2 separate regions of the Homo sapiens genome follow, and region 2 is linked to region 1. Evidence: fine-mapped expression QTL. A gene starts in region 1. The other region holds a variant in brackets. All regions are shown on one strand. Distances are between the middles of the regions. Region 1 holds the start of NELFB (negative elongation factor complex member B). Region 2 has its middle 11 kb from the start of NRARP.

The links.
Region 2: its variant is fine-mapped to the expression of NELFB in monocytes after LPS (Kim-Hellmuth 2017, PIP 0.95).

What each region holds. Positions count from the first base shown.
Region 1 is chr9:137,252,255-137,257,617 of GRCh38, forward strand. It overlaps NELFB (negative elongation factor complex member B), which reads left to right and starts at 3,073. Exons shown (of 13, transcript NM_015456.5): 1 at 3,073-3,357; 2 at 3,653-3,816; 3 at 4,075-4,174; 4 at 4,570-4,800. The coding sequence starts at 3,112. It overlaps STPG3 (sperm-tail PG-rich repeat containing 3), which reads left to right. Exons shown (of 6, transcript NM_001004353.4): 4 at 183-271; 5 at 408-711; 6 at 861-1,229. The coding sequence ends at 991. It overlaps STPG3-AS1 (STPG3 antisense RNA 1), which reads right to left and starts at 1,243. Exons shown (of 4, transcript NR_038389.1): 1 at 909-1,243; 2 at 621-721; 3 at 137-252. It also overlaps a transcript of CIMIP2A not described here. RefSeq lists silencers at 2,441-2,620, 2,811-3,180, 3,191-3,370, 3,411-3,470 and enhancers at 2,481-3,428, 3,429-4,376.
Region 2 is chr9:137,288,224-137,293,586 of GRCh38, forward strand. No RefSeq gene overlaps it. Among named protein-coding and RNA genes, the nearest start is that of NRARP, 11 kb to the right of the region's middle. The variant T/C (reference allele first, on the strand shown) is at 3,338.

The DNA of each region.
Region 1 (5,363 bases):
CACCTCTAGGCTCAGCACCTGTAAGGAGGCCTGGAGAGAGGAGGGCTAGGGCTGGGGCATGGGTGGACATTGTGAAGACAAGGGTTCAGGGGCCGAGGGTGGGAACCGGGAGACAGGTTCGAGTGGGGACTGTCACCTGGGTGGGGCTCCCAGCCTTCTCTCTCTCCATCCTCCAACTACAGAGGGCGGTGGCCGCAGGGCATGGCAGACTTTGTGGTTCCAGAGCGAAAGCCCCTTCACGCAGAAAGCTGACTTCGACCAAGAGCAAAAGGTTGGGGGCTGGGCAGGAAGGGGGCGGGGAGTCCACGCAGGCAGGGGGCTGGGGGTTCCAGTGGGGCCAAAGGGGGGCTGGCTGAGGGTCCGTGGGGAGCACCCTGCCCTGCAGCCCGTCTCCTACCCCCTCGCAGTGGCCCTCGCCAGCCCACTACCAGCTGCTCAGCCGGCCCGCCTTCCCCGCCTTCAGCTTCAGAGGCTGCCACTCCGCTTCCAAGACACCTGAAGGCCACACCCACCTAGGGCTGCCTGGGGCTAGGGGGCTGGGCCTCAGGGTGCAGCCCCAGTCCCTGCTTCAGGCCTCTTTGCAGGCACCTGGCAAGAGATGCCCTGGCCCCAACACCTACAATATCCTTCCTGGGAGCCGCCTGCAGAGCCCCCGCTCGCCGGCCTTCTCGATGAGCCGCTCCCCTGCGTTCACCTCCTGGCTCAGCACCTGTAAGGAGGCCTGGAGAGAAGAGGGCTAGGGATGGGGCATGGGTGGGCAATGTGAGGACAAGGGTTCAGGGGCCGGGGGTGGGAACTGGGAGCCAGGTTTGAGTTGGGGCTGCTACCTGGGTGGGGCTCCCAGCCTTCTCTTTCGGCAGCCCGAACCCCTGGCCCAGCCGCCTACCACGTGGAGGACTGCAACTCACGCTTCCCTTCGGCGCCTGGCGTGGTCATCCAGGGTGTACGCAGACCCAAGCGCCACGACACAGGCCCCTTCTGCACGCTCTAGAGCCAGCTGGGCACAACCTGCTTGGCCCGGCCACCGAGTGGAACCATGGCCTCCCCCGGGGCTTTCCCAGGCCTCCCCTGGGACTTGGGGCCCCAGCCTGGCCTTCTGACCCTCTGGGCACCCCGATGCACCCTTCTGGCTGGCCAACCCTTCTATGGGCTGTGGACAAGGCTGGCCCAGCCTGGATCCCCCATCTGCCCATCTCCCCGCTACACTGAGATGCTGTTGGTTTTCCCGAGCTCTGTGGTGTGCAGTTGTCTGTCCTTCACCCGGGGGCGGTCCTAGAGATATGGCTGCCGCTGGGTCATTTCCGGCTTTCCCTGTTGAGGGGTCTCCATTCAGCTGCCCCTGAAAGGTGCTCTCTTCTCTAGGGTGGCAGCCTGTGACTGACCCTGAGCTCTAGCCTGGAGCGAGATGGGAGGTGGGCTCTGTGGGACACCCCCACCCAGCCGTGTCACTCAGGGGCCTGGTCTAGCTGCTGTCCACCTGAGGGTCAGCTGCTTGCCGAGCCAGGGAACTGGGAAGGAGGCGTCAAATGCCCTGAGCCGCCACCTCCAGGTGGGGTCGGCCTGGCCAGACCTCAGGAAGGGCCCAGGGATCTGCTCACCAGGGCCCAGCCCCACTTCCCCTAGGCCTTGAGCTGAAGACCTGGCTGGGCTTAGTCACCTGTGCCCTGAACACTCTGGCCCAGGGCCCTGCAGACTCCACTCCCGGGGCCTTCACCTGCTGGGACCCTGCACTGCCCCTGCCTGCAACTTCGCCTGGCTGGGGCCTCCCTTGTCATCACTGGCCTGCCCTCCTACCCAGGGTCGGGCCCCAAGGCTGCCACCTTGCAGGAGCCTTACCTGCGGTGCCGTCACCCGCACCTCCCCAGGTCCTCCCCAGACCCAGGACCCAGACCAGGCCCAGAGCTCAACCCCTTCAAAAAGGCTCTGGGCAGCTGCTTCTGTGGCCTCAGCACCACCCCCTTTCTCAGAGAGGAATCCCAGGCTCAGGATTGTGTGTGTGCTGTGACCCTTGTCCTCCTCTGCCACCGAACCAGCTGGGGGTTGGATCAAGGCACTGGAACCCTCGCCCTAGGGCTGACCAACTTGGCCAGCGGCAAGAGAGCTGTGGTAGCCATGGCCTTGGGAGCTCGGCCCGGCTTGTGGGAACAGGAGCTCTGCTCACGGCTGCACCACCAGGCACCCCTGGTGAGACCCAAAGCTAGGAGTGGGAGCGGCAGGAAAGATGGAGCGATCTCCTCCAGCTGGGCTGAGGAGGGAGGGCTTCCTGGAGGAGGTGGTGGAGGAAGAAGCCTTCAAGGAAGAGCAAGAGTTTGCTGGGCAGCGGGAAAGAAATTTCTAGAGAAAATTTCAGCAGCGGAGACCGAAAAGAGAGAGGGTGTGTGTAGGGGGCTTGGCGCGGCACAGCCTGCGGGAGGGCGGCGGGCTGGAGAGGCGGGGAGGCCCGGGGAGCCCACCCGCCTGGGATAAGAAGGGACACTGTGGAACCTGGACTCTCCTTCACGGCTCCGCGGAGCTCGGTGGGCGCCACAGCCTCCCGGTGCCTGGGAGGGCGGCCGTCGCTCGCGCTCCCGCTGCGGGCCCGGTCTCCGCCAGGCCCCGGCCCCCTGAAGGCGCTCAGATCTCAGTTTTGGCGACAGCGCCGGGGTGGGCTTCGTGCCCGTTTCACGCGGAGGAACCCACGCTCAGGAGGGAGTCTGCGCCTGTGTCCGGCCCCTGCGGGGCAGAGGGGCGGGGAGCTCAACCCCCGGCAAAACGTCCCCGCTGCGCGTGGCTGCCGCGAGATCTGCAAGAGCGTTTTCCACGCTTATGTACACGAAATTCACTCGGCTGCGACGACGTCCGTTCCCGGAGCAGACGGACCCTGAGTCCGCCCCCCACGCCCTCACCCGCCCTCTTCTGCCAGAAAGCCCGGGCGCGGGCGGGACCGGGTGGGCGCATGCGCGCTGGGCTGGCTGGGCGGGGTCTCTCGCGCCGGGTGAGGGCGCTGCTCCCAGGAACCTGCGCGCGGCCCCGGCGGCGTTTCCCGGGGGCCGGTTGGCGGGCGGACCTGGGCGGTGCGGGGCGGAAGTGGGCGGCTGCGGGACGCGCGCGGAGTCGCGCGGCGGGCGGGACCTGGCCGAGCTGGAGGGCGCCGGGGAGCGGGGCTCGGGCGGTCCCCGAGGCCCGGCGGAGCGGGCTTCTGGGGTGTCTGCGGCGGCGCCGGGGGAACGGGCTGGGGATGGGGCGCCTAGCCGGGCGGTGGCCGGGGCCTCGGCCATGTTCGCGGGGCTGCAGGACCTGGGCGTGGCCAACGGCGAGGACCTGAAGGAGACCCTGACCAACTGCACGGAGCCGCTCAAGGCCATCGAGCAGTTCCAGGTGGGGCGGCCCCCGGGGCGGGGGGAGCCCAGTTGGAGGGCCGGGCCGCCTGCTCGGGAGTCGGGCCTGGCGGAGGCGCCGGAAGTTTTCCGGCTTTCTGCTGGTGGCTGAGTCCTGTTCTGGGGGTGGAGTCCGGAGCCAGCACCCCTTTGCTGGACGGCTGGGTGGCTTTCGGTGGCTGCGGTTACCGCCAGCACGGCTGGGAACACCTGGGTGCGTGCCTCCCTGTGCTCTCAGGACCTCGGGGTGCCCGGGCGCACTGGGCTGCGTTTGAGGTTTCTCTTGGCTTCCTCAGACAGAGAATGGTGTGCTGCTGCCATCTCTTCAGTCAGCCCTCCCCTTCTTGGACCTGCACGGGACGCCGCGGCTGGAGTTCCACCAGTCGGTATTCGATGAGCTGCGGGACAAGCTGCTGGAGCGAGTGTCAGCCATCGCTTCGGAGGGGAAGGCTGAGGAAAGGTGGGTCAGCGGGAGGGGTGGGCAGGTGAGATGTGCAGCCGGCCTCTCAGCCTTGGATCGACTCAGGGGCATTTATTGTCCTTTTGGCTCCACATCCTTGCTCCCAGAGGTGGCCTGGGCCTGTGTCTGAGTGACCCCTTGACCCATGTGTCCTGGGCGTGGAGGCTTGTCCTGGTAGCTGTTATCTGTGTAGGGACAGGCAGGTAGCTGCTGCGATTTGGCGCATCGCTGCACCATCAATCCTGTGAGTTGTTCCAGGTACAAGAAGCTGGAAGACCTTCTGGAGAAGAGCTTTTCTCTGGTGAAGATGCCGTCCCTGCAGCCCGTGGTGATGTGCGTCATGAAGCACCTGCCCAAGGTAGGGCCCTAACCCTAACCCTGATGGCGTGGACCGTCCGCCCACTCTCATGCCCTTGGTTAGTGGAAGTTCCGGTGGCCGCCTAGCTCCGGGAGCTTCCTGTGCTGCCTGCCCAAGTGCTGTCCATGGTGAGCTCTGTGCTGACTTCTCCCACATGAGCCGCGTGGAGACCGAACCTTAGCACTGGAGTTAGGGTGTGGGGCCCCTCCTGGGAAAGAGCTGTTGGTATTTAGCATGTCTGTCTGACATGCTGGGGCCGGGGAACCAGTCATAGGTGCCCTGTGGGGTGGAGCTTAGCTCGAGGTGGTCTCTGCGGGGCTGAGGCCTCTTGGCTTGTCTTGAAGGAGACCCAGGGACACAGGTGCCACTCACAGGCAGCCTGTGGTGTCATGTAGGTTCCGGAGAAAAAACTGAAGCTGGTTATGGCTGACAAGGAGCTGTATCGAGCCTGCGCCGTGGAGGTGAAGCGGCAGATCTGGCAAGACAACCAGGCCCTCTTCGGGGACGAGGTTTCCCCACTCCTGAAGCAGTACATCCTGGAGAAGGAGAGCGCTCTCTTCAGTACAGAGCTCTCTGTCCTGCACAACTTTTTCAGTCCTTCCCCCAAGACCAGGCGCCAGGGCGAGGTGAGGGGACAGGCCGTGTGCGGGGTGGGGCACCTCTTGGGGATGCCACGGCTAGCGCCTTCAGCTGCCTGGGGATCAGCACTCTGCTGCCCTGTGAATGATCGGGTGGTTCTGCTTCTTGGCTGGGTGGTGGGGGAGGGCTGGCTTGTACACATGCTGGAAAGAAAGTTGGTTGTTTTTCTGTTTGCATTTTACTTTTCGTTAAAGTGATATATGGACAACATTTAAAATCTGCGGAAAGCCCGCTCATGTGAAGTTAATCCCCCCTCCCCTACTTTTTTTCTTTTTCTTTGAGACGGAGTCTCGCTCTGTTGCCCAGGCTGGAGTGCAGTGGTGTGATCTCGGCTCACTGCAAGCTCCCGGGTTCACTCCATTCTCCTGCCTCAGTCTCCCGAGTAGCTGGGACTACAGGCGCCCGCCACCATGCCTGGCTAATTTTTTTTCTTTTTCTTTTTTTTTTTTTTTGAGACGGAGTTTCGCTATTGTTGCCCAGGCTGGAGTGCAATGGCGTGATCTCGGCTCACTGCGACCTCCGCCTCCCAGGTTCAAGCAATTCTCCTGCC
Region 2 (5,363 bases), 36 kb after region 1:
CGCCACTGCACTCCAGCCTGGGCGACAGAATGAGATTCACTCTCAAAAAATAAAATAAAATAAAATAATAAAAAAATAGAAAAGGAAAGAAAAAGCGCCTCTGCCCGGCCGCCCCTACTGGGAAGTGAGGAGCCCCTCTGCCCGGCCAGCCGCCCCGTCCGGGAGGGAGGTGGGGGGGTCGGCCCCCCGCCCGGCCAGCCGCCCCGTCCGGGAGGTGAGGGGCGCCTCTGCCCGGCCGCCCCTACTGGGAAGTGAGGAGCCCCTCTGCCCGGCCAGCCGCCCCGTCCGGGAGGGAGGTGGGGGGGGTCAGCCCCCCTGCCCGGCCAGCCGCCCCGTCCGGGAGGTGAGGGGCGCCTCTGCCCGGCCGCCCCTACTGGGAAGTGAGGAGCCCCTCTGCCCGGCCACCACCCCGTCTGGGAGGTGTGCCTAACAGCTCATTGAGAACGGGCCAGGATGACAATGGCGGCTTTGTGGAATGGAAAGGCGGGAAAGGTGGGGAAAAGATTGAGAAATCGGATGGTTGCCGTGTCTGTGTAGAAAGAAGTAGACATGGGAGACTTTTCATTTTGTTCTGCACTAAGAAAAATTCCTCTGCCTTGGGATCCTGTTGATCTGTGACCTTACCCCCAACCCTGTGCTCTCTGAAACATGTGCTGTGTCCACTCAGGGTTAAATGGATTAAGGGCGGTGCAAGATGTGCTTTGTTAAACAGATGCTTGAAGGCAGCATGCTCGTTAAGAGTCATCACCCATCCCTAATCTCAAGTAATCAGGGACACAAACACTGCGGAAGGCCGCAGAGTCCTCTGCCTAGGAAAACCAGAGACCTTTGTTCACTTGTTTATCTGCTGACCTTCCCTCCACTATTGTCCCATGACCCTGCCAAATCCCCCTCTGTGAGAAACACCCAAGAATTATCAATAAAAAAATAAATTAAAAAAAAAAAAAAAGAAAAAAAAAAGAAATTGGAGAGCCAGCAAACCGAGAAGATGGAGACCTGGAGACCTAGTGTCCTGAACCAGTATCTTACATTTTCCATGCTGGCAGGAGGGTTTTCATGGGATGGGGGATGTGGAGAAACTATGTGCAGGGCTTGGGATCAGGAGGGGACCGAGGACCACACACATCTGGGTGCCAGCGAGGGTGGGAGGGACCGAGGACCACACACATCTGGGTGCCAGCGAGGGTCTGAGGAGGCTGTGGCCACTTCTCTGTCCTTGGTCAGGTCACAGTGCTCCTGTAAATCTTTTTTTTTTTTTTTGAGATGGAGTCTCGCTCTGTCGCCCAGGCTGGAGTGCAGTGGTGCAATCTTGGCTCACTGCAACCTCCGCCTCCCAGGTTCACGCCATTTTCCTGCCTCAGCCTCCCAAGTAGCTGGGACTACAGGCGCCTGCCACCATGCCCGGCTAATTTTTTTTTTGTATTTTTTGTAGAGTCAGGGTTTCACCATGTTAGCCGGGATGGTCTCGATCTCCTGACCTCATGATGTGCCCACCTTGGCCTCCCAAAGTGCTGGGATTACAGGCGTGAGCCACCATGCCCGGCCCTTGCTCCTGTAAATCTTTAACAAAACCTAGTTAGTGGGTTTCATTTTTATTTTTTTATTTTTTTTTCAGGGTCTCACTCTGTCACCCAGGCTGGAGTTCAGTGGCGTGACCTCGGCTCACTGCAAGCTCCGCCTCTTGGGTTCAAGCGATTCTCCTGCCTCAGCCTCCCGAATAGCTGGGATTACAGGCATGCGCCACCATACCAGCTAATTGTTGTATTTTTAGTAGAGAGTGTTTCTCCATGTTGGCCAGGCTGGTCTTGAATGCCTGACCTCAGGTGACCCACCCACCTTGGCCTCCCTCAGTACTGGGATTACAGGCGTGAGCCACCGCACCGGTCCCCACATATATATTTTTTGAGACAGGGTCTCTCTCTGTTGCCCAGACTGGAGTGCAGGGGTGCAATCATGGCTCACTGCAGCCTAAACCTCCTGGGCTCAAGCCATCCTACCACCTCAGCCTCCAAAGTGGATGGGACCACAGGCGTGTGCCACGTCTGGCCAGGTTTAAAAAATTTTTTTAGAGACGAGGTCTCACTATGTTGCCACGCTGATCTCAAACAGCTGGGCTCGAGCAATCCTCCTGCCTCCTCCCAAAGTGCTGGGATTACGGGCGTGAGCCACCACACCTGGCTTTAAGTAGAATTTATTTTTATGTATGTATTTATTTATTTATTTATTTGAGATGGAGTCTTGCTTTGTCGCCCAGGCTGGAGTGCAATGGCACAATCTCGGCTCACTGCAACCTCTGTCTCCTGGCTTCAAGTGATTTTCCTGCCTCAGCCTCCGGAGTAGCTGGGATTACAGGCACCTGCCACCACGCCTGGCTAATTTTTGTATTTTTAGTAGAGACGGGATTTCACCATGTTGGCCAGACTGATCTTGAACTCTTGACCTCGTGACTCACCTGCCTCAGCCTCCTAAAGTGCTGGGATTACAGGCATGAGCCACTGTGCCCAGCCTGATATTTCTAGTTTTATTTTACCAATAAGTTAAAAACTATTTTTGGCCTGGCATGGTGGCTCACGCCTGTAATCCCAGCACTTTGGGAGGCTGAGGCGGGCAAATCATGAGATCAGGAGTTCAAGATCAGCCTGGCCAACATAGTGAAACCCTATCTCTACCAAAAATACAAAAATTAACCAGGTGTGGTGGCACGCACCTGTAGTCCCAGCTACTTGGGAGGCTGAGGCAGGAGAATCGCTTGAACCCAGGAGGCAGAGGTTGCGGTGAGCCAAGGCGGCAGCATTGCACTCCAGCCTGGGTGACAGAGCAAGACTCTGTCTCAAAAACAAACAAACAAATAAAAAAACATTTTATTTACCAAAGATTATAAAATTCATGTGAACCTGATAGACATTTGGACTTAACTTATGAGTATCCATTTACTTATAGGCCAATTTGGTAACATGCTACATACAACATATAACAATACCTGTACATATACATAAACACATTTAAACATATATACATACAAACACACACACACACAAAGATCCAAACCTTTTTTTTTCTTTTTTTTGAGACGGCATCTGGCTCTGTTGCCCAGGCTGGAGTGCAGTGGCATGATCTCAGCTCACTGCAACCTCTGCCTCCTGGGTTCAAGTGATTCTCCTGCCTCAGCCTCCCGAGTAGCTGGGATTACAGGCACCTGCCACCATATCTGGCTAGTTTTTGTATTTTTAGTAAAGACAGAGTTTCACCAAGTTGGCCAGGCTGGTCTTGAACTCCTGACCTCAGATGATCCTCCCGCCTTGGCCTCCCAAAGTGCGCTGGGATTACAGGCATGAGC[T/C]AACGCGCCCGGCCTTTTTTTTTTTTTTTTTTTTTTTTTGAGAGAGTTTTGCTCTTGTTGCGCAGGCTGCAGTACAATGGCATGATTTTGGCTCACCACAACCTCCGCCTCCTGGGTTCAAGCGATTCTCCTGCCTCAGCCTCCTGAGTAGCTGGGATTACAGGCATGCGCCACCATGCCCGGCTAATTTTGTATTTTTAGTAGAGACAGGGTTTCTCCATGTTGGTCAGGCTGGTCTTGAACTCCCAACCTCAGGTGATCCACCCGCCTTGGCCTCCCTAAGTGCTGGGATATTACAGCCATGAGCCACTGCGCCCGGCCTAATTTTTCTGTTTTTAGTAGAGACTGGGTTTCACCATGTTGGCCAGGCTGGTCTTGGACTCCTGACCTCAAGTGATCCACCTGCCTCAGCCTCCCAAAGTGCTGGGATTACAGGTGTGATCCACCATGCTCAGCCTGTTCTTTATTTTCAAGATTATTATTATTATTTTGAGATGGAGTTTTGCTCTTGTCGCCCAGGCTGGAGTGCAATGGTGCGATCTTGGCTCACTGCAACCTCTGCCTCCAGGGTTCAAGCAATTCTCCTGCCTCAGCCTCCCAAGTAGCTGGATTACAGGTGCCCGCCACCACGCCCGGCTAATTTTTGTGTTTTTAGTAGAGATGGGGTTTCACCATGTTGGCCAGGCTGGTCTTGAACTCCTGACCTCAGGTGATTCACCTGCCTCAGCCTCCCGAAGTGCTGGGATTACAGGCATCAGCCACCGCACCCGGCCTCTTTTCAAGATTATTTTGTTTATTTTTTTGACATTTGTGTTTCCAAATGAATTTTAAAAATCATCTAGCCAATTTCCACGGAAAGCCTGCTGGATTTTGACTGTGATTGCATTGAATCTGTAGATGAATTTGGGGAGCACTTATAACACTATCAAGTCTTCTAGGCAGTGAACATGATACGTATCTCTTTTGATTCAGATTTAAAAAAGAATTTCTCGGCCAGGTGCAGGGGCTCACACCTGTAATCCCAGCACTTTGGGAGGCTGAGGAGGGTGGATCACAAGGTCAGGAGATCGAGACCATCCTGGCTAACACGATGAAACCCCGTCTCTACAAAAAATACAAAAAATTAGCCGGGCGTGGTGGCGGGCGACTGCAGTCCCAGCTACTCAGGAGGCTGAGGCAGGAGAATCGCTTGAACCCGCGAGGCGGAGGTTCCAGTGAGCCGAGATCAGGCCACTGCACTCCAGCCTGGGCGACAGAGCGAGACTCCATCTGAAAAAAAAAAAAAAAAAAAAAGTTTCTGGCAATGTTCTATAGTTCTCATTGGAGAGATCTTTCATTACACACTTTCATTAATTTTTTTGTTAAGCATTTTATGTTTTGCCGTATGCTATTTTAGTGGTATTTTCTGAATGTTGACAGGATATAGAATCACAATTGGCTTTTGTGCATTGACTTTGCGCCCTGCAAGGCTCGACATTCACATATTCGTCCTAGCAAAGTGCCTGGTAGGCAGCTCATTCCTCCTTCCTCTGGCAAAGGAGAGGCCCCAGATCTCAGGCCTGGTCTGCGGTGGGAAGAGCCTTGCACCGGAGCTGCCGGGTCTGCAACCCTCCGAGGTTGGATTTCCAGTCCCTGGGCTCAGTGCCTGGGAGGGGAGACGGACTACCAGGGAACATGGCGGGGCCCCTGTTGGGGACACAAGAGCTGGCCGGTGCCACGCTCTGGGATTCCAGGAGGGTGTCCTCGTGACGCAGTTCCTTTCTGGAGGAGGATGAGTGTGCCAACTGAAAAACTACCCGGGAACATGAGCCTGTGTTTGTGGCGCACCAGCCAGATTTTACGAGTTCCGAAAAAAAAAAAAAAAAAAAAAAAAGAGGCTACACCTTGCAGAAGTTAGGGAAACACGAACCACACAGACAAATCTCAACAGCATGGCGACGAGTTTCAGGGGCAGGACAAAAGAAGCGCGTGCCACGTGATGCCTTTAGAGAAAGCTCTGGAACAGGCGCCGTGAATCCACGGTGCT